2 separate regions of the Homo sapiens genome follow, and region 2 is linked to region 1. Evidence: fine-mapped expression QTL. A gene starts in region 1. The other region holds a variant in brackets. All regions are shown on one strand. Distances are between the middles of the regions.

The links.
Region 2: its variant is fine-mapped to the expression of TAOK2 in monocytes (Schmiedel 2018, PIP 0.95).

What each region holds. Positions count from the first base shown.
Region 1 is chr16:29,966,524-29,979,326 of GRCh38, forward strand. It overlaps TAOK2 (TAO kinase 2), which reads left to right and starts at 7,345. Exons shown (of 16, transcript NM_016151.4): 1 at 7,345-8,125; 2 at 11,215-11,381; 3 at 11,566-11,637; 4 at 11,729-11,830; 5 at 12,276-12,321; 6 at 12,451-12,547; 7 at 12,672-12,785. The coding sequence starts at 11,250. It overlaps TMEM219 (transmembrane protein 219), which reads left to right. Exons shown (of 6, transcript NM_001083613.2): 4 at 1,502-1,731; 5 at 4,885-5,055; 6 at 6,427-6,525. The coding sequence ends at 5,022. It overlaps LOC124903762, which reads left to right and starts at 7,099. Exons shown (of 2, transcript XM_047435036.1): 1 at 7,099-7,257; 2 at 7,474-8,112. The coding sequence starts at 7,099. The coding sequence ends at 8,112. RefSeq lists a silencer at 7,035-7,404 and enhancers at 7,828-8,599, 8,306-8,435, 9,237-9,738, 9,739-10,238.
Region 2 is chr16:30,139,151-30,151,953 of GRCh38, forward strand. No RefSeq gene overlaps it. Among named protein-coding and RNA genes, the nearest start is that of MAPK3, 22 kb to the left of the region's middle. The variant G/A (reference allele first, on the strand shown) is at 5,927.

The DNA of each region.
Region 1 (12,803 bases):
AAAATATTCTGGCCAGGCGTGGTGGCTCATTCCTATAATCCCAGCCTTTGGAAGGCTGAGGCAGGTGGATCACCTGAGGTCAGGAGTTCAAGACTGGCCTGGCCAACATGATGAAACCCCGTCTCTACTAAAAATACAAAAAATTAGCCAGGCATGGTCGTGGGCACCTGTAATCCCAGCTACTCACAAGGCTGAGGCAGGAGAATTGCTTAAACCTAGGAGGTGGAGGTTGCAGTGAGCTGAGATTGCACCACTGCACTCCAGCCTGGGCAACAAGAGTGAAACTCTGTCTCAAAAATAATAAAATAAAATAAAATAAAATAAAATATTCTGTATTTTCTTTAAATACTTAAGTTTTTTTTTAGTTTGTATAGTTCTTTAATACATCTGAACTTTATTTTATAAGATAACAGTTTGACGCTATGTTTTTTTCTACATGGAAATTTTCCCAAGGCCATTTACTGAGGCCATCCTTTCCCCACTAATTTAAAATAGGGTGAGAACCTTTTAATGGATTTTGGTACCAAGTGAGAAACTGCTTTCTTAAAAAGAATGAACTAGTTTATGCAAACTGACATGGGCAATGTGTATCTGCCCATTTCACTGCAGCCTTGCGAGTATTAGTATGGTTGTTGTATTGATTGTAATTTAAGTTAATTTAAATTACAACTTAATTTGTGTTTATATTGATACAAAGTTATTTTCATTTCTCAGTGATATAAATAATGGTATATGGAATACTTTATTGAATAGAATCAATGCCAAAACACCTGGTATTATAGAAAGCCTTAAAAAATGACTAGGGGCAGGCGTGGTGGTTCATGCCTGGAATCCCAACATTTTGGGAGGTCAGGGTAGCAGGATGGCTTGAGCCCAGGAGTTTGAGTCCAGCCCGGGCAATACAGTGATACCCTGTCTCTACAAAAAAATTTTTTTAAATTAGCCAGGTAGGTGGCACACACTTGTAGCCCTGCCTACTCAGGAGACTGAGGTGGGAGGATCACTTGAGCCTAGGAGGTTGAGGCTCCCGTGAGCTGGGATCGTGCCACTGCACTCCAACCTGCACGACAAAGTGAGACCCCATCTCAAAAAAATAAAGAAAGAAAGAAAATACAAGAAAAGGGCCGGGCACGGTGGCTCACGCCTGTAATCCCAGCACTTTGGGAGGCCAAGGCGGGCGGATCACGAGGTCAGGAGATCAAGACCATCCTGGCTACCACAGTGAAACCCCGTCTCTACTAAAAATACAAAAAATTAGCTGGGCCTGGTGGTGGGCACCTGTAGTCCCAGCTACTCGGGAGACTGAGGCAGGAGAATGGTGTGAACCCGGGAGGCGGAGCTTGCAGTGAGCCGAGATTGCGCCACTGCACTCCAGCCTGGGTGATAGAGCGAGACTCCGCCTCAAAAAAAAAAAAAGAAAATACAAGAAAAGAAGCGTGAAGACAGAGGCTCCCGCGTCACCTCTCATTTTCTTCCATTTTCTCTTCTGTGCCTTTCACAGGATCTTCTGCAGGACAACTGGTCCTTATCACAGCCAGGGTGACCACAGAAAGGACTGCAGGAACCTGCCTATATTTTAGTGCTGTTCCAGGAATCCTACCCTCCAGCCAGCCACCCATATCCTGCTCAGAGGAGGGGGCTGGAAATGCCACCCTGAGCCCTAGAATGGGTGAGGAATGTGTTAGTGTCTGGAGCCATGAAGGCCTTGTGCTGACCAAGCTGCTCACCTCGGTAAGAGCCTCAGATGGGTCGCCAGGGTTTTGTAGACTGCCTGCTGACTACTGTATCTTGAAGGTCCCTGGAAACAATTCTACCTTGTAGAAAAAGCACAGGTTTTATAACCCTGCCTTGGGGGCTGTGTGACGTAGAACAAGTGTCTAAACATCTCTGAGTGTCAGCATCCTCATCTGTAAAACAGAAAACATGACCCTATCTCTTAATTCCATCAAATAAGGATTAAATGAGAATGACCGTGAAGTGCCCAGCACATTGCCTGGGACATAGAGATTTGATAAGTGACAGCTATTGTTGTTTACTATTGTCTTTAAAACATTCTCTCTACTTCAAAGGAGTTCAGAAGCTATAATAAGAGGCAAATGGGCTAATTGCTATTAGAGAGATGTGAGCAAAGTGTTATGCAAACACAGAGAAAGGAGCCATTAACCCTAACTTGAACATTTATGGAGAGTGCATCACAGAGAAGGTGGCATTTACCAGAGAGCATTGTGCACAGTGGTTTATAATGCACAAAGTGCTCTCAGGGTTCATTAATTCATTTGATCTTAAAATAGCCTTTTGAGGTAGGTGTTATTATCCCATTTTACAGATGAGGAAACAGGTTTAGAGAAAGGGAGTGAATTGCTGCAGGCCACACAACTGGTTAAGTGGCAGAGCCAGGGTTGCAACCCACACCTTCTGTCAAGTCAGAATGATCCTTGAAGAATGAGGAAGATTTGGACAGGGACTGCAGTAGAGGAGGTTCAGGAGAGGGGGAGGTACACTCCAGGCAAAGGCACCAGCATGCGCACAGGCCTAGAGATTGAAAAGTGTTCAGCCAGGTGTCACATCTGTAATCCCAGCACTTTGGAAGGCCGAAGCAAGGAGAATGCCTGAGGCCAGGAGTTCCAGACCAGCCTGGAGAACATAGCAAGACCTCGTTTCTTTTTCGCTTTTTTTTTTTTTTTTTTTTTTGAGACGGAGTCTCACTCTGTTACCCAGGCTGGGGTGCAGTGGCACAATCTCGGCTCACTGCAAGCTCCACCTCACAGGTTCATGCCATTCTCCTGCCTCAGGCTCCCGAGTAGCTGGGACTACAGGCGCCTGCCACCATGCCCGGCTAATTTTTGTATTTTTAGTAGAGACAGGGTTTCACCTTGTTAGCCAGGATGATCTCAATCTCCTGACCTCGTGATCCACCCACCTCAGCCTCCCAAAGTGCTGGGATTACAGGTGTGAGCCACTGCGCCTGGCGACCCCATTTCTTAAAAAAAACATTTTTTTTTTTAATTAGCAGGGTGTGGTGGTACACACCTATAGTCCCAGCTACTCAGGAGGCTGAGGTGGGAGGATCCTTTGATCCCAGGAGTTTGAGGCTGCAGTGAGCCATGATTGTGCCACTGCACTCCAGCCTGGTTGCCAGAGTGAGACCCTGTCTCAAGAAGGAAAAAAAAAGAAAGTGTTCAGCCTTTGGGAGCACTCCATGTTGAGAGGCTTAGGAAGGAGAAAAGGCAAGAGAGACCACAGGGATTTGATGGAGAGGCTCTGTGAATGCAGGATAGAGGGCTATGACCTGATGCTGAAGGCCGTGGGGGCCACTGAGGAGTTTTAAGGAGGAGAGAGATGTGCTTCCCTGGTGCTGGGTGGAGAATGGCTGAGTGGAGGAGGGCCATCAGTCAGGAGGCTGCTGCACACTCCACTCTCACATTTGAAAATACCCCATGAGGCACGGTGGCTCACGCCTGTAATCCCAGCACTTTGGGAGGCCAAGGCCGGTGGATCACTTGAGGTCAGGACCAGCCTGGCCAACATGGTGAAACCCCATCTCTACTAAAAATTTAAAAATTAGCTGGATGTTGTGGCGGGCGTCTGTGATCCCAGCTACTCAGGAGGCTGAGGCAGGAGAATCTCTGGAACCTGGGAGGCAGAGGTTGTAGTGAGCTGAGATCATGCCACTGCACTCCAGCCTGGGCAACAGAGTGAGACTCCGTCTCAAATAAAGAAAAAAAGAAAAGACCCCATGAGGAGCACAACCTGGGACTTGGAATCAGAGATCTGGTTTCCAGATCTAGCACTGCTTGCACTTTTTTTTTTTTTTTTTTTGAGATGGAGTCTTGCTCTATCGCCCAGGCGGGAGTGCAGTGGCGCAATCTCAGCTTACTGCAAGCTCCGCCTCCCAGGTTCACGCCATTCTCCTGCCTCAGCCTCCCAAGTAGCTGGGACTACAGGCGCCCGCCACCATGCCCGGCTAAGTTTTTGTATTTTTAGTAGAGATGGGGTTTCACTGTGTTAGCCAGGATGGTCTCAATCTCCTGACCTCGTGATCCACCCACCTCGGCCTCTCAAAGTGCTGGGATTACAGGTGTGAGCCACCGCACCCAGCCACTTATACATCTTTAAACTGTGGATCATAATGAAGTTTCCTATCTCATGGAGTTATGATGGGGTTTCAGGTTGATAATTGGGCAAGAAAGTAGTTTTTAAACCATCAAGACAAATGTTCGAGCCTGGGCAACATGGTGAAACCCCATCTCTACAAAAAAACACACAAAAAATTAGCTGGGCGTGGTGGCACACACCTGTGGTCCCAGCTACTCAGGAGGCTGAGGTGGGAAGATCGCTGGAGCCCAGGAGGCGGAGGTTGCAGTGAGCCGAGATTGCACTACTGCACTCCAGCCTGAGTTACAGAGTGAGACCCTGCCTCAAAAAGAAAAAAAAAAAAAAGGGCCAGGCGCGGTGTTTCACGCCTGTAATCCCAGCACTTTGGGAGGCCGAGGTGGGCGGATCATGAGGTCAGGAGATCAAGACCATCCTGGCTAACACGGTGAAACCCCGTCTCTACTAAAAATACAAAAAATGAGCCAGGCGTGGTGGCGGGCACCTGTAGTCCCAGCTACTTGGGAGGCTGAGGCAGGAGAATGGCGTGAACCCAGGAGGCGGAGCTTGCAGTGAGCTGAGATCGCGCCACTGCACTCTAGCCTGGGCGACAGAGCAAGACTCCATCTCAAAAAAAAAAAAAAAAGACAAATGTCAGCTTATATGAAAATAACATTTTCCCTTCAGTTGCTCCCTAGATGTGGAGAGCCCTCTCCCTCATGGAGGCTCCTTCTATAGCCCTTGGACTGGATTAACATGTCCTCCTCCTCCTCTCCCTGTACCCCTCCCTAGGAGGAGCTGGCTCTGTGTGGCTCCAGGCTGCTGGTCTTGGGCTCCTTCCTGCTTCTCTTCTGTGGCCTTCTCTGCTGTGTCACTGCTATGTGCTTCCACCCGCGCCGGGAGTCCCACTGGTCTAGAACCCGGCTCTGAGGGCACTGGCCTAGTTCCCGACTTGTTTCTCAGGTGAGGTTCTTTGCTCCAGTCCTGCGGGAGCAGGGAATGGGGTGGGGGTGGGGGTTGTAACCGGGGTAGAGCAGATCCTTGGACTTTTCCTCAAAGACTGCTGCTTCTGAGTCCCCGAGAACCTCTTCAACCACAGCTCTCCCTTAGGGACTGGGAACAATTTGACACCGTCAGCATTCAATATTTTTCTAATTACTTTAACTTTTTTATTATAAAATAGTTAACACTTATGTAGAAAAGTCCAATAGTATAAAAGGACAGCTTGGCAAATTATTATAAAGTGGATACTTATAAATACCACTGAGTAGAATATTACCAGCTGTCCAGAAACCCCCCATGGTCCCTTCCTTCCTGACAATGCCCTCTCTCTCCCTAGAAATTACTGTCCTGCTTTATAATGTATTGCCATGTATGTATTCCTAAATAATATAGTTTGGTTTTACTTATTTTTGAAACTATGTAGACAGAATCATACACATTCTTTTGTGGCTGACTTCTTTCAAGCAACATTGTGATTTTAAGACTCATAACTAGTTCACATCCAAGCATTTGGGTAACAATGGTGAGTTAAGAGGGTTCACATTTGATGATTTGTCCTGAATATGAACCATGTTTGTCTTGCTTTTGTCCTGAAATTCCAATACCCAGTTTTATGATGGAAATTTTGTAAAATTCAACTTGAACCGCTCAGAAGAGTCTAACTGATGATACTCATTTACTGGGGACATAGTATGTGCCCAAGAACTTGACATGCACCTTCTGTCTTCCATTTAGTCATCGTTACCTTTAGAAAAAGCTGATTCCGTTAACAAGATCTTTGGAGGGAATCAGCTTCACAAACGTAGCAGTGGGTGGGGGTCATGTTGGTTAACCAGTTCACACATCAGCTCACTAAAGGAAAAAATATTTCTGCAAAAAATCTTCACTTGTCAGAGGGGGGTGCATGAAATTTGAGAGCCATGTGTTATGCATCCAGCTCTTGAACTGGTCTCAGCTTCAGCTGGCTGCAGTGCCCTAGGAAGTTACTATGGGAAAAGTGGAAATAGTTGAGGCCCAGGGAACTGATCAGGCCAGAGGAAGTGGAAGCTCAAGATCAACTGTGCTTATTTTGCTGATGGCTGGGCCTAAATGCCCCAACCACCTACTTGGGACAGGAAATGACAGGACCCTCTCAACCTTGGACTGGGAAAGGAGGGCTTCCTGGCCCCTGACAGACCCTGGGGTCCTGAGGCTACCTTAGTTGGGATTAAATGCCCGTATTGGTCTCTAGCTGTCACTCCCTCTGCTCCTTCCTCAATTTCTGCACACATCTCAGAGCTTCCTCTAGCAGCTCTTCGACCTGTTTTGTTGTTTTATTTTCTTTCTCCCCAGGTGTGAATCAACTTCTTGGGCCTTGGCTCTGAGTTGGAAAAGGTTTTAGAAAAAGTGAAGAGCTGGAATGTGGGGGAAAATAAAAAGCTTTTTTGCCCAGTGGCGTGTATGGTGTTTATTGGGGGTTGGATTGAGGTGGGGATTTTAGGGTAGGCAGGCTTAGAAGTTTTGGGGGACTCTTTCCTGTTGACTCTCTAGTTTGGACACAGGTTGGCATAGGGCATAGGTTACTTGAGCTCTCCCCATGGTTGACTTGGCTTTGGTAAACACCTGTCTTGTTTTCTTCTACGAAATAAAATGGATAATTACAGTTAGTTGGGCGGGTGGGGTGTCAGGTCATGGAAATGCTGTGACATAAATGCACTGTGACCTTGGCAAGTCTTGCAACCTGCAGCGCCTCAATTTCCGTAAGAGATTTGACCGATTGAGTTTTCCCAGCGTCGACGCGCAAAGATTCCTCGCACTTGGAGGCCCTTTTCCAGGTTAGATGGTTGCTAACCTCGGAGCAGTCTATTTTCCCGCCTTTTCCGCGCCCAGCAGCAGCTTCCTTTGCCCCTCCCAACTTCCACCCTGCGCGCAGTCGCAGATCGCCGCTGCTGTCCGTCCACCCGCGCCCCCTCAAAGCTTCCCCTAGCAACAAGCTCGGGCTCAGAGCGAAGGCGGGGCGAGCGCATGCGCTGCAGCTCTGTCCACCGCCAGTCGTGGGACAGAGTGCCGGGCTCCTCCCCTTGCAAGTCTAGCTCTTCTCCCCGCCTCCTCCGGCCTGGGGTCCGCGTGGCGGGGCGGGCGCGCACTCGGGCTTGGCGGCTGCCGGTCTCCCAGGCCGCGGCAGTGAGGAGAGAGGGCGGGGCTGAGTCCTCTGCGCCCCCGCCCCCTTTAGCCCGGCGTCCCTACCGCGCCTGCGCGCTCCCGCCCGGTCTCCATCTTGGAATTGGGAGGAAGAGGGAGAGGGAGACCGGGACGAGACCGGGGCTGTGGTGCGGAGAGAGGCTGAGACGGAGAAGAGGAGAGGCAGAGAGGGCGCGGGGACCGTCAGCAGCACCTTAGCTACAATCGTTCAGCTATTCTCGGAAGAGAGAAGGGAGAGGGAGGAGGCCGGGGCGGGAGTGGGGGCTGTCACCCTCGGACCCCGGCGTGAGAGGGGCCGTGCGGCCGGACGTCCTCGGGGTGGGCCCCCAGTCGGTGGCCGAAGACCTACAGCTCAGGCCCCTGGGTCCCAAATTTCCAGGCTTTGCCCCTCCTCCTTTCTCAGATACCCGGGTAACAGTCCTCATAGTCCAGATATCCGGGACTCGGGTCCCAACCTCTCTAAACCTGGGTCTCTGTTTCATAGAATTTCAAATATCAGGTTCAGGCCCCTGCGTGCACCAGTATCCGGGGTTCATTCCCCGGGCGTTCAAATATCGGATTCAGTCTCCATCCCGTTCAGATATTCGGGGTTCAGACCCCACAATCAGAAATCCGGAATTCGGCAGCTGTCGCCCTCGACGAGGGGGAGGACTGGACCGCGAGGTCAGATTAGGTTGTCACCCCCTCCCCTCCAGGGGAGGCTTCCCGGGCCCGCCCCTCAGGAAGGGCGAAAGCCGAGGAAGAGGTGGCAAGGGGAAAGGTCTCCTTGCCCCTCTCCCTGCTTGGCAGAGCCGCTGGAGGACCCCAGGCGGAAGCGGAGGCGCTGGGGCACCATAGTGACCCCTACCAGGTGAGACACGGGGTGCAGGGGCGCGGGTCCCTGTGTCTAGTTCTGAGAAGAAAGGGTGCGCCTTTCTGAGAAGCTGGACTTGGGTAGGCCCTCTCAGGATGGGGAAGCCCAGCTGAGCGAGTGGTCAGCCTCTGGCTAGCCTTGCCTTCTGTTGCCACCCCCTTCCCCTTCCTCTTCCCTTCATTGTGTCTGGTTGGTGGGGGACCTCAGGTGACAGGGTCTCTGATGTCACCGGCGTTCACACCCTAGGGTGCTTCAGCTAATCAGATGGATTTGCACTTCAGTCTTCTCTCCTTCACTTTGCCCCTCACAGCCACCTCTCCTCCCTGATATGTCCCGTTCTCCTGGCTATTCTGTGGTTTTGATTCCCATGCCTCTGATTCCCATGGTGGGTCTGCTTATCTGCTTTTCAGGCCTGGTCTGGTTGGATTTCTTGTCCTTGCAAGGAAGTGTGTGTATATGTGTTTGTGTGTATGCGTGTGTGTGTGTGCTTGGAGGTGCCTGGCAATGTTTTCCCCCAGCTGCAGTTACCTTCCAACCTCTTGCTGTGATGGTGTCAATAATCTCATCCATTTGTCAAACGATCTGTCTTTTACAAAGTGCTTTGACAGCCATTCTCTCATGTGACATCCCCGCATTCACCCTGTGGGGGCCTCTTTTATTGGCATCTTCCCATTTTACAGTTGAGAACGTTGAGGCCGAGAGAGGTTGCCCAAGGTCACACAGTGGCAGAACCAGAATTTGAACTCAAGTCCTCAATCACATCTTTCCCTGATGCATGCCTGGTTCTTGCCATCTCTTTTCCTCTGAGTTTGGGCTCGGCCAGGGGTCCCTAGGAGTCCAGGCTGGGGTGAGGTTTAAGAATGGGGATGAGATGAGCTTCCTTTCCAGGAGGGCTCTACTCAGAAGCTTTTCCTGATGGGAGCCTCTGGCTTTTGCCTCTGCCTCATGGAGTTTTCTATCCACTGTGACCTTCATCTTTACCCCAATCCCAGGGTTTGGCCTGGATTCCTGAGAGGGCTCTCTCCTGACAAATGGTAGCACTAGTGGCATCTTTTAACTGTTCAAGCCAAGCTGTTGGGGTAGAATGATCCCCCAAAGGATTAAAGCTTTGTGGGGACCTTGGAGGCAGGGAAGGAAAAATCCATATGCTGAGTGTCTGCATGGTGTTCCTAAGTATGAGATCTCATTAAAATCTTAACAACAGCTCCATGCTGTAATCCATTTCACTGAAGAGAAGACCAAGAACTGGAAGGAACTTATTTAAAGCCCTGTTGCTGTACATTGCAGACGGGATGTACTGGTAGCATAGCTTAGGAACAGATAGATACGGGTTTCCTCATCTGTAGAATGGAGATAACATTGTTCGTTTTGGAAGGTGGTTATGATTTAGCACAGACCTTGGTTATTGTTCAAGTGTTTGTTGTTATTATGGGGAAGGGGACCTGCATGATGTTTTGCCAGTGGGTGGCACCCCTCCGTGTGGCCTAGGTTAGCATTCTGGGGCCTTGTGTTGGTAAAGAGGTCAGGAAGATTCCTTTGGCAAGTTGAGAGCACCTGCCTTTGTGTGTGGGTGTGTGGTGCTGGTGAGGGGTGCTTGGCACTGTTGCTGGCAGAAGGGAGAAAAGGGCCGGCTTTGAGCAACCTGCGAGCTGCTGAGGGCTGAGCAGAGAGCAATCACTCAGTCTCCCAGGCTATTCTGAGCCCTCTGCACCCTGGGGGCCCACTGGAGAGTCAGGCTCCCTCCTTGCCCTCCAGCTTCCAGTTGGGCTGAGACAAAATTAACAACACAACAGGAAACAATGCATGACAGAATAAATTACATGCTAAAATTGTTAGGTGCTTTTGAGTAGCTAGAACTCTGCCCCAGGAGTCCAGCTCTGCTGAAGGCTCCTTTGTGCCTAAATTCTGACAAGTGCTTAGGCTGGAGCCTGTCTTGGAATCTCCTTGAGGGTTTTGGTTCTGGTATCCTGCAGGAACTTTCTCCGGGTGTTTGGTTGGGTGCCCTAGGTGCTCTTCCCAATGGCTGGAGTGGTCAGGACAGGCTTCCTGCAAGAGGGGAGCTGAGCTTGGGGTGACAGCTGAGAGAGTAATGGATACAGGCCTAACCGGGGAGCCGAAGGTCCTGTTCTCTGACCTTGGAGAAGTCCTTTTTCTTCTCTGTGCCTCAGTGACCTCACCTAGGAAATGGTGATCATGATTCTGCCCTGCCTGTTTCGAAGGGCTGCTCTGAAATCATAGTGATGGAGGACCAGCTTTGGACAAGGCACTTAACCTTGCTGAGCCTGTTTCTTTATCTGTAAGATAGGGGAAATCATAGTACTTGCTTCATAAGGTTGTAGTGAGGACTGAATAGAGATAATGCACGTAAGGTACTCAGTAAATGTTATTTGTACCCTGCAAATGTCCTGTACCTGTGTGTGATGCTTATGCAGTTGGACAGGACAAGTAAGGTGGCCCAGAGCACAGAGAGGCCCTCATAGCCAGATGCCATTTATATCCCTATTCTTCCCATTCTAGATCTCCCCCTGACTTTTTTGAGAGTGACTTTGCGGGCTCCTCTGGGCCAGTACCCACTTCTAACAATGGACGGATTTCCACCGCCTCCGGCCTGGCCATTTCCTGTTCTCTTCCAGGGTGTGAGAGGTTGAGGGAGGAGGGGGCCTCAGCGCCAAGGGGAACAGAAAGGTGCCTGGAAACAGTTGGGGTATAGGACTTATGGGACAGGACACTTGGGGCTCTGGAGTGCTGGCTGGGAAGCAGAATGTTTTATCCTTGAGGGGAGATACAGGGGCTATAGGGAAATGAGAACTTGTTGAGCACTGAAGGGGGTGGTGAGGATACTTAGCTTCCCAGAATCTTCCTAGCAGTTTTAGGGACTCCAGGGACCCAGCCCGCGTGATCTGGTTGCCAGGGCAACTTCATTTTTTGGAGCTTTGATGTTGTTCCTAATCTCCCCCTCCCCTTCCTCAGCAGTGCCTCCTCCTCATCAGGGAATGAGGGGAGGAGATGGCAGAAACTTGATGGGTCCCTTCCTCTCCCTGAAGGCTCAATCCTTGATCTCTAAGGGTCCCATTTCCATTCCTCAGGCCAGGCCCCACTCTCAGGGCCCCCAGGGGCCACCATGCCAGCTGGGGGCCGGGCCGGGAGCCTGAAGGACCCAGATGTGGCTGAGCTCTTCTTCAAGGATGACCCAGAAAAGCTCTTCTCTGACCTCCGGGAAATTGGCCATGGCAGCTTTGGAGCCGTATACTTTGTGAGTTGGGTCTTGGGAGGGTGTAATAGGGATGGGGACTCTTCCTATCCCTGTGGACTTCCCAACAGCCCTTGCACACTACTCCATCACACTGGTCTTTCCTGCCTTCTCTTGCTGGGCCAGCAAGTCTTCCCATGCCCGGCTCTCAATGGGGCCTTCAACACCTTCTGGTCTGGTCCTCTAGGCCCGGGATGTCCGGAATAGTGAGGTGGTGGCCATCAAGAAGATGTCCTACAGTGGGAAGCAGTCCAATGAGGTGGGCCAGGTGCAATACAGCCAGGTTGGGGACAGGGGACTCCTGTCTCAAGATGCAAGCTGGGTAACCTCTGCCTACCCTGACCCCCTAGAAATGGCAAGACATCATCAAGGAGGTGCGGTTCTTACAGAAGCTCCGGCATCCCAACACCATTCAGTACCGGGGCTGTTACCTGAGGGAGCACACGGCTTGGGTGAGCTGGTGCCAGATTCTGGCCTGATCTTTACTCCTATTCATGCCCGTCCTTATCGTAGTCCAGTCTCTTAGGTGGTCCCTGTTCGTGGTGCTGTTGTGGGATCTTGGGAAGGAGGAAGTCTCTTTTGACCGCTTTAGTCCTCAGACATACCCACTGAGCAAAAGCCTGGCTCAGTGACACAGGCTGTTAGCAGGTGGGACAGGTCACTGTGGGCTGGAGAAGGTGGAGATTGAATGGGAGTTTGAAGGGATTCAGATGGGCAGTGGTGAATGTCTTGGGCCCAGACTCTAGAAACTCTCCCACCACCCCCTCATTGTCTCCAGTTGCGCTTCCTCCCTGTCATCACCCCGGGGACATAGCTTGAGTACAGGACAGTCAAGGAAGCTCTGTTTTGAGTCCCTGCCCAGGAGACTCTGATCTCTGACCCTTGTCTCTTCCTTAGCTGGTAATGGAGTATTGCCTGGGCTCAGCTTCTGACCTTCTAGAAGGTAAGTGACTGATAGGCCAATAAGTGGAGAAGGGAGAAGAGCAGGGGAGCCATAGGGAAGGGTTAAGGGGAGTTTATTCCAGTCCCACCCTTGCGCTCCCTCGGGTTGATGTTCTTCCTCACTCTCCAGTGCACAAGAAACCCCTTCAGGAGGTAGAGATCGCAGCTGTGACCCACGGGGCGCTTCAGGGCCTGGCATATCTGCACTCCCACAACATGATCCATAGGTACAAGCAGCACCGGCAGTGCCTGGGAGGGGAGTGCTATCTGCACCACCTGTCACTTAGCTGGGCTGCCCCTGCCTAGCTTTCTTGAGACACATGTCTCATCCCTGTACTTTGCCTCTGGCAGGGATGTGAAGGCTGGAAACATCCTGCTGTCAGAGCCAGGGTTAGTGAAGCTAGGGGACTTTGGTTCTGCGTCCATCATGGCACCTGCCAACTCCTTCGTGGGCACCCCATACTGGTGAGTGAGTGAGTGGTG
Region 2 (12,803 bases), 170 kb after region 1:
CTCTGTCACCCAGGCTGGAGTGCAGTGGTGCAATCTCAGCTCACTGCAACCTCTGCCTCCTAGGTTCAAGCAATTTTCCTGCCTCAGCCTCCCAAGTAGCTGGGATTACAGGCGTGCGCCACTGCGCCAGCTGATTTTTGTATTTTCAGTAGAGACAGGGTTTCACCATGTTGGCCAGGCTGGTCTCGAACTCCTGACCTCAAGTGATCTGCCCACCTCAGCCTCCAAAGTGCTGGGATTACAGGCATGAATCACGGCACCTGGCCTCCTGGCTTTTCTTTTTCTTTGAGACAAGGTCTCACTCTGTCTCCCAGGCTGGAGTGCAGTGGTGTGATCATTGCTCACTGCAGCCTTGAACTCCTGGGCTGAAGCAATCCTCCCATTTCAGCCCCTCAAGTGGCTAGGAGTACAGGTGCATGCCACCATATCCAGCTAATTTTTTCAATTTTTTGTAAAGATGGAGTCTTATCATGTTGCCCAGGCTTGTCTTGAACTCCTGGGCTCAAGTGATCCTCCCGCCTCGGCCTCCCAAAGTGCTGGGATTATAGGCATGAGCCGCTGAAGCTGGGCTCTATAGGCGTATTATGAAAAACCAGGGCTCCTTCATGACCCATTTCCTGTTCCCCAGAGGCAAGAACGTTCCACCGCTTTGGCTGGGCCATTGGTATTGACTTCCATGTCTCTAAACAGCATGTTCATATTGTACTTGCTGATTTCTCGGTTTTAGGCACTACCTGTTATCATTTTGAAGGTTGAGGCTTTACAATTCTTCCACCTCTCCCCGACAGCCCACATCTCTATTCCTACATATGCACGTGTGCACTTCCTGTTTTCATTCTTCCATGTCACTGTGCCTCGGTTCTGGGTACACAGATATTCAGAGTCTATATCCTATAGCTATGTAAACACTGTTCACAGCTGAACCATGCCCTTTCCACAAACACTTCTTCCCTGCACTGTTTGTTCCTTCTTTCCCCTCCACCACACTGAGTTCATTATGTCACATTTTAGCTGCTGTGTTTTTTTGCTATGTAACACTAGTTCAATCCTGAATGCTACCTTGAGATGTCAATCCTTTATCACATTCAAACATATTCCATTTTCTATTGGTTTTATTTCATATTATTTTGTTTTGTTTTATTTTGAGATAGGGTCTTGCTCTGTACCGGAGGCTGGAGTGCAGTGGTGCAATCACAGCTCACTGCAGCTTCAGCTTCCTGGGCTCCAAGCAGTCCTCCCACCTCAGCCCCCAGAATAGCTGGGACTACACATGCGTGCCACTACACCCGACTAATTTTTAAATTTTTTGTAGAGACAGGGTCTTGCAATGTTGCCCAGGCTGGTCTTGAATTCCTGAGCTCAAGTGATCTTCCTGCCTCAGCCTCCCAATGTGCTGGGATTACTGGCATCAGCCACCTCGCCCAGCTGCACCATGTATGCATTTCTAAACAGGCTTAGTTCCTGCCTGTTTTGGGCTTTATAAGAACGCACTCATGGCCAGACACAGTGGCTCACGCCTGTAATCCCAGCACTTTCAGAGGCCAAGGTGGATGGATCATGAGGTCAGAAGTTCGAGACCAGCCTGGCCAACATAGTGAAACCCTGTCTCTACTAAAAATACAAAAATTAGCCGGGCATGGTCTTGCACGCCTGTAGTCCCAGCTACTCTGGAGGCTGAGGCAGGAGAATCACTTGAACCCGGGAGGCAGAGGTTGTGGTGAGCCGAGATTGTGCCACTGCACTCCAGCCTGGGCAACAGAGCTAGACTCTGTCTCAAAAAAAAGAATGCACTCATTGTAGGCTGGGTGTGGTAGCTCACGCCTGCACGCCTGTAATCCCACACTTTGGGAGGCTGAGGCGGGTGGATCACCTGAGGTCAGGAGTTAGAGACTAGCCTGGCCAACATAGTGAAACCCCATCTCTACTAAAAATACAAAAATTGGCCAGGCGCACATCTGTAATCCCAGCACTTTGGGAGGCCAAGGCAGGCGGATCATCTGAGGTCAGGAGTTTGAGACCAGCCTGACCAACATGGAGAAACCCCGTCTCTACTAAAAGTACAAAAAATTAGCCGGGCGTGATGGCACAAGGCTGTAATCCCAGCTACTCGGGAGGCTGAGGCAGGAGAATTGCTTAAACCCAGAAGGTGGAGGTTGCGGTGAGCCGAGATTGCACCACTGCACTCCAGCTTGGGTGACAGAGCAAGACTCCGTCTCAAAAAAAAATAAATAAATAAAAAGTTAATTGTGATTGTGGTAGAATACACACAACATAAATGTACCTTTTTTTTTTTTTTTTTTTTTGAGACAGAGTCTCGCTTTCTTGGCCAGGCTGGAGTGCAGTGGCACGATCTCCACTCACTGCAGCCTCCATCTCCCAGGCTCAAGCAATTCTCCTGCCTCAGCCTCCCGAGTAGCTGGGATTACAGGTGTGTGCCACCACGTCCGGCTAATTTTTGTATTTGTAGTAGAGACAGGGTTTCACCATGCTGGCCTGGCTGGTCTGGAACTCCTGACCTCAGGTGATCCACCCACTTTGGCCTTCCAAAGTGCTGGGATTACAGATGTGCGCCTGGCCAATTTTTGTATTTTTAGTAGAGATGGGGTTTCACCATGTTGGCCAGGCTAGTCTCCAACTCCTGACCTCAGGTGATCCACCCGCCTCGGCCTCCCAAAGTACCATCTGAGCCATTTTTTAGTGTTCAGTTCAGTGGTGTTGAGTACATTCACACTGTGGTGCAACCAATCTCCAGAACTCTTCATCTTGCAAAACTGAAACTCTGAACCCACTAAACAACAACTCCCCTCTCTCCCCTCCCCTCAGCCCCTGGCAACCATCACTCTACTTTCTATCTCTATGACTCTGACTCCAGGTACCTCACATAAGTGGAATCATGCAGTATATGTCTTTTGGGGACAGGGTTATTTCACATAGTATAATGTCCTCAAAGTTCAGCCATGTTGTAGCATGTATCAAAATTTCCTATTTTAAAAAAAATTCTGAATAATATTCCACTGTATGTAGGTAGCACAGTTTGTTTATCCATTCACCCTTTCAGCCTCTGTCTTTATTATTATTATTATTATTTTGAGACAGTCTTGCTCTGTTGCCCAGACTGGAATGCAATGGCGAGATCTCAGCTCACTGCAACCTCCGCCTCCCGGGTTCCAGTGATTCTCCTGCCTTTGCCTCCTGAGTAGCTGGGATTACAGGTGCCCGCCACCATATGCCTGGCTAATTTTTGTATATTTAGTAGAGACGGGGTTTCACCATGTTGACCAGGCTGGTCTCGAACTCCTGACCTCATGACCCGCCCGCCTCGGCCTCCCAAAGTGCTGGGATTACAGGTGTGAGCCACCGCTCCCGAACCTGTCTTCTATATTGGATGCCTTCCTCAAACGTGGTGAATCTTGGGGGTCTGTGCATACTAAAGCTGGAGCTATTAAAAGCCTTTTAAAAGTTCCCCAGGCTGAGGGCACAGTGGCTCATGCCTGCAATCCCAGCACTTTGGGAGGCCAAGACAGGTGGATCTCTTGAGTCCAGGAGTTCAAGACCAGCCTGGGTAACATAACAAGACCTCATCGCTACAAAAAATAAAAAAATAAAGCTGACCATGGTGGCTCACGCCTGTAATCTCAGCACTTTGGGAGGCCAAGGCGGGCGGGTCATGAGGTCAGGAGTTCGAGATCTGTCTGGTCAACATGGTGAAACCCCATCTCCATTAAAAATACAAAAATTAGCCAGGCGTGGTGGTGGATGCCTGTAATCCCAACTACTCAGGAGGCTGAGGCAAGAGAATCACTTGAACAGGGAGGCAGAGGTTGCAGTGAGCTGAGATCGTGCCTCTGCACTTCAGCCGGGGCGACAGAGTAAGTCTCCATCTCAAAAAAAAATAAGAAAAAAAATAAATCAGGCACGGTGGTGCACACTTGTAGTCCCAGATACCAGGAAGGCTGAGGTGGGAGGACGATCGAGCCCACGAGTTTGAGGTTGCAGTGAGCTGTAATTGTGCTACTGCACTGCAGCCTGGGTGACAGAGTGAGACCCAATCTCAAAAACAAACAAACAAACAAAAAAAAAACCTCTCTCCACTGTGTGGCACTGTGTGCTAGGGGGTGACCTTGCTGGTGGCTTCCCAGGGAGCTCCTGATGTCAGTGTCTTCAGGACTTTCCTCTTGGCTTGATCACAGTCCCTTCAGAAGATTCTTCCAATTCCTGCCTGAAGGTGCCAATTTCTATGTCTTTTGTGGCTTCTGCAAAGAAAACCTAGCAATTTCTCATTTTTTCCAATGCCAGCTCGATTCCACTTCCTTGGTTCTAGTAAATTGGTTACCATGAGTCCCTCTATTAGTACCTGGCTTAAACATTTTTGTTCGTATTGTCTTCTTTCCTATTCTTACTCTTCCTGTGGGTGTGTGGCATTAGAAAGATTCTCTTACTGCCATTTTATTATGTTTGGGGCAAGAACAGAAGTAAATACATGTGTTTAGTCTACTATCTTTAACCTGATGCCTTTTAACTTTTTTTTTTTTTTGAGGTGGAGTTTTACTCTTGTCACCTAGGCTGGAGTGCAATGGTGTGATCTTGGCTCACTGCAACCTCTGCCTCCTGGGTTCAAGCGATTCTCCTGCCTCAGCCTCCCGAGTAGCTGGGGTTACAGGCGCCTGCCACCATGCCTGGCTAATTTTTTTTTTTTTTTTAGTAGAGACAGGGTTTCACCATGTTGGCCAGGCTGGTCTTGAACTCCTGGCCTCAGGTGATTTGCCCGCCTCGGCCTCCCAAGGTGCTGGGATTATAAGCGTGAGCCACTGTGCCTGGCCCCTTCTAACTTTTTAAAAGTAAACCTTGTCTTGGTTAGGCATGGTGGCTCATGTCTGTAATCACAAAATTTTGGGAGGCTAAGGCAGGAGGATTGCTTGAGGCCAGGAGTTAGAGACCAGCCTGGGCAACAGAGTGAGACTGTCTCTACATAAAATTTAAAAAAATAGCCAGGTGTGGTGGTACATGCCTATAGTCCCAGTGCTTTGGGAGGCCAAGGCAGGAGGATCACTTGAACCTAGGAATTCAAGGCCACAGTGAGCTGTGATTGCACCACTGCATTCCAGCCTGGGTAACAGAGCAAGACCCTGTCTTGAAGGAAAAAAAAAGAGTTGTCATATTCTTACCACATCATTATCCACATTATCCACAAAGCAAAGATATGGAATCAACCTAAGTATCTATCAATGGAGGAGTGGATAAATCAACTATGGTATGTATACAGAATGGAATACTATTTGACTATAAAACAGAATTAGGCTGGGCATGATGGCCCACACCTGTAATCCTAGCACATTGGGAGGCGAACACAGGTGGATTGCTTCAGCCCAGGAGTTCGAGACCAGCATGGCCAACATGGAGAAACCCCACCTCTACTGGAAAAAAAAAAAAATTAGCCAGGCGTGGTGGCAGGTGCCTATAATCCCTGCTACTTCAGAGACTGAGGCAAGAGAATTGCTTGAACCTGGGAAGCAGAGGTTGCACTGAGCCAAGATCACTGCACTCCAGCCTGGGCCACAGAGCAACACTCAGTCTCAAAAAAAAAAAAAAAAGTTTTAATATCTGATAGCAGAGTAGGGTGATTATAGTTGGCTGCAATGAATTGTATATTTCAAAGTAACTAGAAGAGAACTTGAATTACTCCCAACCCATAGGAATGAGAAATACTCAAGGTGATGAGTACCCCAGATACCCTGGCTTGATCATTACACATTCTATGCATGTAACAAATACTCTCATGGACCCCATAAGCATGGTGTATATATATATGACATATATGATATATCATATGCAACACATATTATATCATATATGATATAATATATGTGATATATCATATATGATATATAATATATGTGATATATCATATATCATATATAATATATGC[G/A]ATATATCATATATCATATATAATATATGTGATATATATCACATATAATATATGTGATATATTATGTATCACATATAATATATGTGATATATTATGTATCATATATAATATATGTGATATATTATGTATCATATATAATATATGTGGTATATTATGTATCATATATAATATATGTGGTATATGTGATATATATTATATATGATATGTGTGATATATTATATAATATATGTGATATATTATATATGTGAGATATATATAATATATATATTTCTTTTTTAGACAGCATCTTGTTCTGTTGCCCAGGCTGGAGTGCAATTGCACAATCTTGGCTCACTGCAACCTCCGCCTCCTGGTTTCAAGCAATTCTCCTGCCTTAGCCTCCCGAGTAGCTGGGATTACAGGCGACCGCCACCACACCCAGCTAATTTTAGTATTTTTAATAGAGATGGGGTTTCACCATATTGGTCAGGCTGGTTTTGAATTCCTGATGTTAGGTGATCCACCTGCTTTGGCCTCTCAAAGTGCTGGGATTACAGGTGTGAGCCACTGCGCCTGGCCTGGAATACATTATGTATCAATAAAAAAAAACAGGAGTTGTGTGGAGAACAATTGGAGCAGCAGATGGCAAAGAAGACCTTGAGGGCTGGGATAAGAAGACTGGATTTTCTGCTAGAAGGAATGAGAGCATTTTATCATGTTAGTCAGCTTCAGAGCCTTGCAGTAAAAACATTTGCACATTTGAATGTTGATGAAGACATTTACAAATATAGACAGGATGTGATAATTTGTACTTTTCCCTCATCCCCGGTTGGTGTGAGTGATGTCATTGATTGCACCAGTTAACAGGTGAAAAAATAGAAGTTTGGGATGTCAGGATTGTACCTGATGCTTGAGCATCATAGGTGGATGTGAAGGAAAAGGAAAACATGATCAAGGGCTGAGCAATCTGGGCCACAGGAATATCAAACTCATTTACCAATGTGTGCAGCCACCCTTAGGCTGCATGACAGATTGAGGACAGAGCTTATCTGGGCACTCATTAATTGAAAGGAGGAGATCAGTGAGAAGAAGTAGAGAAAACAAACTACTTGTCAGTTCAAACTTAATCACTTTGTTTTTTGAGACAGAGTCTCGCACTTTCGCCCAGGCTGGAGTGCAGTGGCATGATCTCGGCTCACTGCAAGCTCCGCCTCCCGGGTTCATGCCATTCTCCTGCCTCAGCCTCCTGAATAGCTGGGACTACAGGCACCCGCCACCACGCCCGGCTAATTTTTTGTATTTTTAGTAGAGACGGGGTTTCGCCGTGTTAACCAGGATGGTCTCGATCTCCTGACCCCGTGATCCCCCGACCTCGGCCTCCCAAAGTGCTAGGATTACAGGTGTGAGCCCCCGCGCCCGGTCTTTTTTTTTTTTTTTTTTTTGAGACAAAGTCTTGCTCTGTTGTCCAGGCTGGAGTGCAGTGGCATGATGTCAGCTCACTGCAACCTCTGCCTGTGGGGTTCAAGAGATTCTCCTGCCTCAGCCTCCCAAGTACCTGGGATTATAGGCACCCGCCACCACACCCGACTAATTTTTGTATTTTTAGTAGAGACAGGGTTTCACATGTTGGCCAGGCTGGTCTCCAACTCCTGACCTCAGGTGATCCACCTGCCTTGGCCTCCCAAAGTGCTGGGATTACAGGTGTGAGCCACCACGTCCAGCTTTTTTTTTTTTTTTTTGAGATGTAGTCTTGCTCTGTCACCCAGGCTGGAGTGCAGTGGCTCAATCTATGTTCACTGCAACCTCCGCCTCCTAGGTTCAAGTGATTCTCCTGCCTCAAACTCCTGAGTGGCTGGGATTACAGGTGCGTGACACCACGCCCAGCTAATTTTTGTATTTTTAGTAGAGAGAGGGTTTTACCATGTTGGCCAGGCTGGTCTCAAATTCCTGGCCTCAGGTGATCTGCCCGGCTCAGGCTCCCAAAGGGCTGCGAATCCAGGCGTGAGCCACCGTGCCCGGCCCGGTTTATATTTTAGAAGGGTAATACAGTAAGTTGACAGTAAGAGAGCCCTTATCTCTTTTCTTTTCCTTTTTTGTTCTCCTTTCATATTCCATCATTGAAAGGTAGGAACATACAGCATAACTTAAAATTAGGAACAGAGTTCACATATAACTTTTTTTTTTTTTTTTTTTGAGATGGAGTCTTGCTCTGTCACCAGGCTGGAGTGCAGTGGCGCAATCTTGGCTCACTGCAACCTCTGCCTCCCAGGTTCAAGCAATTCTTCTGCCTCAGCCTCTTGAGTAGCTGGGACTACAGGCACGTGCCACCACACCCAGCTAATTTTTTTTGTATTTTTAGTAGAGACGCGGTTTCATCATGTTGGTGAGGCTGGACTCGATCTCCTGATCTTGGGATCCACCCGCCTTGGCTTCCCAAAATGCTGGGATTACAGGCATGAACCACCACACCCAGCCACCTTTTTTTTTTTTTTCTTTTTCTTTTTGAAGACAGAATCTTGCTCTGTTGCCCAAGCTGGAGTGCAGTGGCGCAATCTCAGCTCAATGTAGCCCCCACCTCCTGGGTTCAAGTGAGTCTCCTGCCTCAGGCTCCCGAGCAGCTGGGATTACAGGCATCCGCCATCACACCTGGCTAATTTTTGTATTTTTAGTACAGACGAGGTTTCACCATGTTGGTCAGGCTGGTCTCGAACTCCTGACCTCAAGTGATCCGCCCGCCTCAGCCTCTCAAAGTGCTAGGATTACTGGTGTGAGCCACTGCGCCTGGCCCATATAACCTTTTTAAAAAATAACAGCTTTATTGGAATATAAAACATACACCATTAAGTTTACCCTTTCAAAGTGTACAGTTTGGTGGGTTTGGTTTTTAGTTGATTCACAAAGTTCATCTGTCACCACTATGTAATTCCAAAATATTTTCACCCCAGGAAGAAACTCTATACTAATTGGCAGCCACTCCCTGTCCCCTCCCTACTCCCCAAGTCCCTGGCAACCACTAATCTAATTATTGTCTCCATGGATTTGCCTATTCTGGACAGACCACATGTAAAGTTTTTGCTTAATCTGATTAATTGATAGGTTCCACTTTTACAGATAAATAGCTTTTCATGTCAGCAAAAATGAAAGATTTAAAATGTAGTACTAGGCTGGTCACAGTGGCTCACGCCTGTAATCCTAACACTTTGGGAGGCCAAGCTAGGTGGATCACTTGAGCTCAGGCATTCAACACCAGCTTGAGCAACATGGCAAAACCCGGTCTCTACAACAAATACAAAAAATTAGCCGGGTGTGGTGGTGCATGCCTGTGCTCTCAGCTCCCAGCTACTTGGGAAGCTGAGGTGGGAGGATCACTTGACCCTGGGAGGCAGAGATTGCAGTGAGCCAAGATCACACTACTGCATTCCAGCCTGGGCAACAGAGTGAGACCCCATCTCAAAAAAAAAAAAAATATATATATATATATATGTAGTACCTGACCTCCCCCAAAGTTATTTGAGGTTCAAATGATTTATTTCAGCCTCCACTTAACTAGAGCTGACCTCTTATTAGACACCTTGGGGACATTACTATGAGCCTTAAAGAAATAAAAAGTATTATAAAGGAATACAATAAATAGTTGTATGCCAATTAATTAAACAACTTAGAAAAATGGACAAAGTCCTAGAAAAACAAGAAAAACCTACCAAATTTCAGGAAGAAATGGAAATTCTGAATAGACATATAACAAGTAAATAGATTGAAGTAGTAATAAAAAACTTCCCACAGGTTGGCGTGGTGGCTCATGCCTGTAATCCCAGCACTTTGGGAGGCCGAGGTGGGCAGACCACGAGGTCAAGAGATCAAGACTATCCTGGCTAACACCGTAAAACCCCGTCTCTACTAAAAAAAAATTAGCCAGGCATTGTGGTGGGTGCCTGTAGTCCCAGCTACATGGGAAGCTGAGGCAGGAGAATGGTGTGAACCCAGGAGGTGGAGCTTGCAGTGAGATGAGATCGTGCCACTGCACTCCAGCCTGGGCAACAGAGCGAGACTCCCTCTCGAGAGAAAAAACAAAAACAAAAACAAAAACTTCCACAAAGGCTCATGCCCACAGGGCTTCACTGCTGTATTTAACTAAACATTTAGAGAAAAATTAATACCAGTTTTTCATAAACTCTTTCAAAAAATAGAAGAAGAGGCAACATTTCCCAACTCTTTTTATGAGGCCAGTATTACCCTGATGCCAAAGCCAGACATAAGAAAGGAAACTACAGATCAGTATTTCTTATTAATATAGAGGCAAAAATCTTCAAATACCAGCAGACAGAATCCAGCACCACATCAAAAGGACAGTACACCATGATCAAGTGCGAATGATCCCAGGAATGCAAGGCTGGTTCAATATCTGAAAATACATTAACTTAATACACCATAATTTTAGAATAAATGGAAAAAAGCAATTAATCATCTCAATAAATGCAGAAAAAAACTTTGACAAAATTCAACATTCTTTCGTAAGAAAAAAACCATGCAACAAACTACAAGTAAAAGACAACTTCCTCTACCTGATAAAGAGCATCTGTGAAAAACCCACAGCTGACATCATACTTAATGGTGAAAGTTCCTGACAGATCAAAATAAGACAAGGAAGTCCGCTCTTACCACTTTTATTCTGTATTGTACTGGAGATTCTAGCCAGGAAAATTAAGCAAGAAAGTGAAATAAAAGGCATCTAGATTGGAAAGAAAGAAGTGAAACTATCTATAGATTACATGATCTTGTATATAGAAAATATACAAGATCCAAGGCCGGGCGTGGTGGCTTATGCCTGTAATGCCAGCATTTGGGAGGCCAAAGTGGGCAGATCATTTGAGATCAGCAGTTTGAGACCAGCCTGGCAAACATGGTGAAACTCCGTCTCTACTAAAAATACAAAAAATTAGCTGGGCATGGTGGTGCACACCTGTAATCCCAGCTACTCAGAGTCTGAGGCAGGAGAATCCCTTGAAGCTGGTAGGCAGAGTTTGCAGTGAGCTGAGATCGTGCCACTGCACTCCAGCCTGGGTGACAGAGTCAGACTCTGTCTCAAACAAAACAAAACAAAAACAAAAAAAGAAAATATATAAGATCCTGTAAATCCTAAGGAACCCACTAAAAAATCAGAACTTTAATCGCCAGGGAAATGCAAATCAAAACCTCTGAAGAAAAAACACAAACTGTTTTTTTTCTTGGCTCTCACACCACAGTAACAATCACTACAGAAGTCTTCTGTGACCGGGCTGGGTGCGGTGGCTCACATCTGTAATCCCAGCACTTTGGGAGGCCAAGGTGGGTGGATCACGAGGTCAGGAGTTCAAGAACAGCCTGACCAACGTGGTGAAAACCTATCTCTACTAAAAACACAAAAAGAATAGCCAGGTGTGGTGGCAGGCACCTGTAATCCCAGCTACTGGGGAGGCTGAGGCAGGAGAAATGCTTGAACCAGGGAAGCAGAGGTTGCAGTGAGCAGAGATCACACCACTGAACTCCAGCCTGGGCAACAGAGTGAGACTTGGTCTCAAAAAAAAAAGAAAAGAAAAGGAAAAGAAAAAAGAAAAAAAAAAGAAGTCTTCTGTGACCAAATGTTGGGGGGAACTCCTGCCAACACCAAGCAAACAACCAATTCTCCAATGGACAATTCTGAATTGAGTGTCCTCCAATTCAATTCCAACACTATCTACCTGAAGATAGCATCAGATCCCACAAGTTGAGGGTTCAATCCCACAAGACTGCACCCCTACACACACCAGAACTTCTGACCGACTGGCTTCAAATTGGGGTTTCCATGATTCCCTCTTTTTTTTTTTTTTTTTTTTTTTTTTTTGAGACAGAGTCTCCTCTGCCACCCATGCTGGAGTGCAGTGGCAGAGATCTCAGCTCACTGCAAGCTCCGCCTCCCAGGTTCATGCCGTTCTCCTGCCTCAGCCTCCTGAGTAGCTGGGACTACAGGTGCATGCCACAACGCCCAGCTAATTTTTTGTATTTTTAGTAGAGATGGGGTTTCACTGTGTTAGCCAGAGATGGTTTCGATCTCCTGACCTCGTGATCCGTCCGCCTCGGCCTTCCAAAGTGCTGGGGTTACAGGCATGAGCCACCATGTCTGGCACAGCTCTCTCTTTAGTGAGAGTGGGGACTTCTGAGAGGAAAAGACCAGCAGGTGGGGGATGTGCCATATTTTATAGTCAGATTTGAGGATGTGGTGCCTGATTTACATAGGACTCACAGATTGGTTTGATCAAGAGTGATATTACATAGCATGCAGGGAAGGCTGGCTGCCTCACCCTAATCATATTATGCAAATGAACTTTCCCCTTGGCCTTCGCCATCTTGTCTGCTCTTTACTGTACACGTGGCTGACAAAGAGAAGGGAAGATGGAGCCACCATCTTGAACATGATTGGCACAACTGCCAACATCTATGTCTGCAGCTCGATTTTACAGGCTACTCTTCGTTAGAAAGGAAAATAATTTGGGGCTGCTTTTCATTAAAAGGAGAACCTTACCAAAGACTTCTGTACCCTTACTATCTGCCTAAGTAATTTCTTCTTAACTCCTGTATGACCTCCACATGGTCAGCTATCCGGAAGCTCCCTAAGCCCTGTCCTTTTGGCCTTTTATGGAGACTTAATTGGATAGGCATGACTCAAGCATGGACAAATGTGTAGAAAGGTGATTGGTCAAAAAGGGCACGATCTAATACTAATACCCTGAATGGGGAACCCCAGCAAGGCCCTTGTGTTCAGCAACTCCTTGGCCTCTCTGTGCAGCTTTCCTTCCTCCAGGGTATGGGCAGGAGTCCTACCGAAATGAAGGTGTCATCAACTACACTCAGACAAGGTATGTCAGAGAGTTTCTTTATGGCC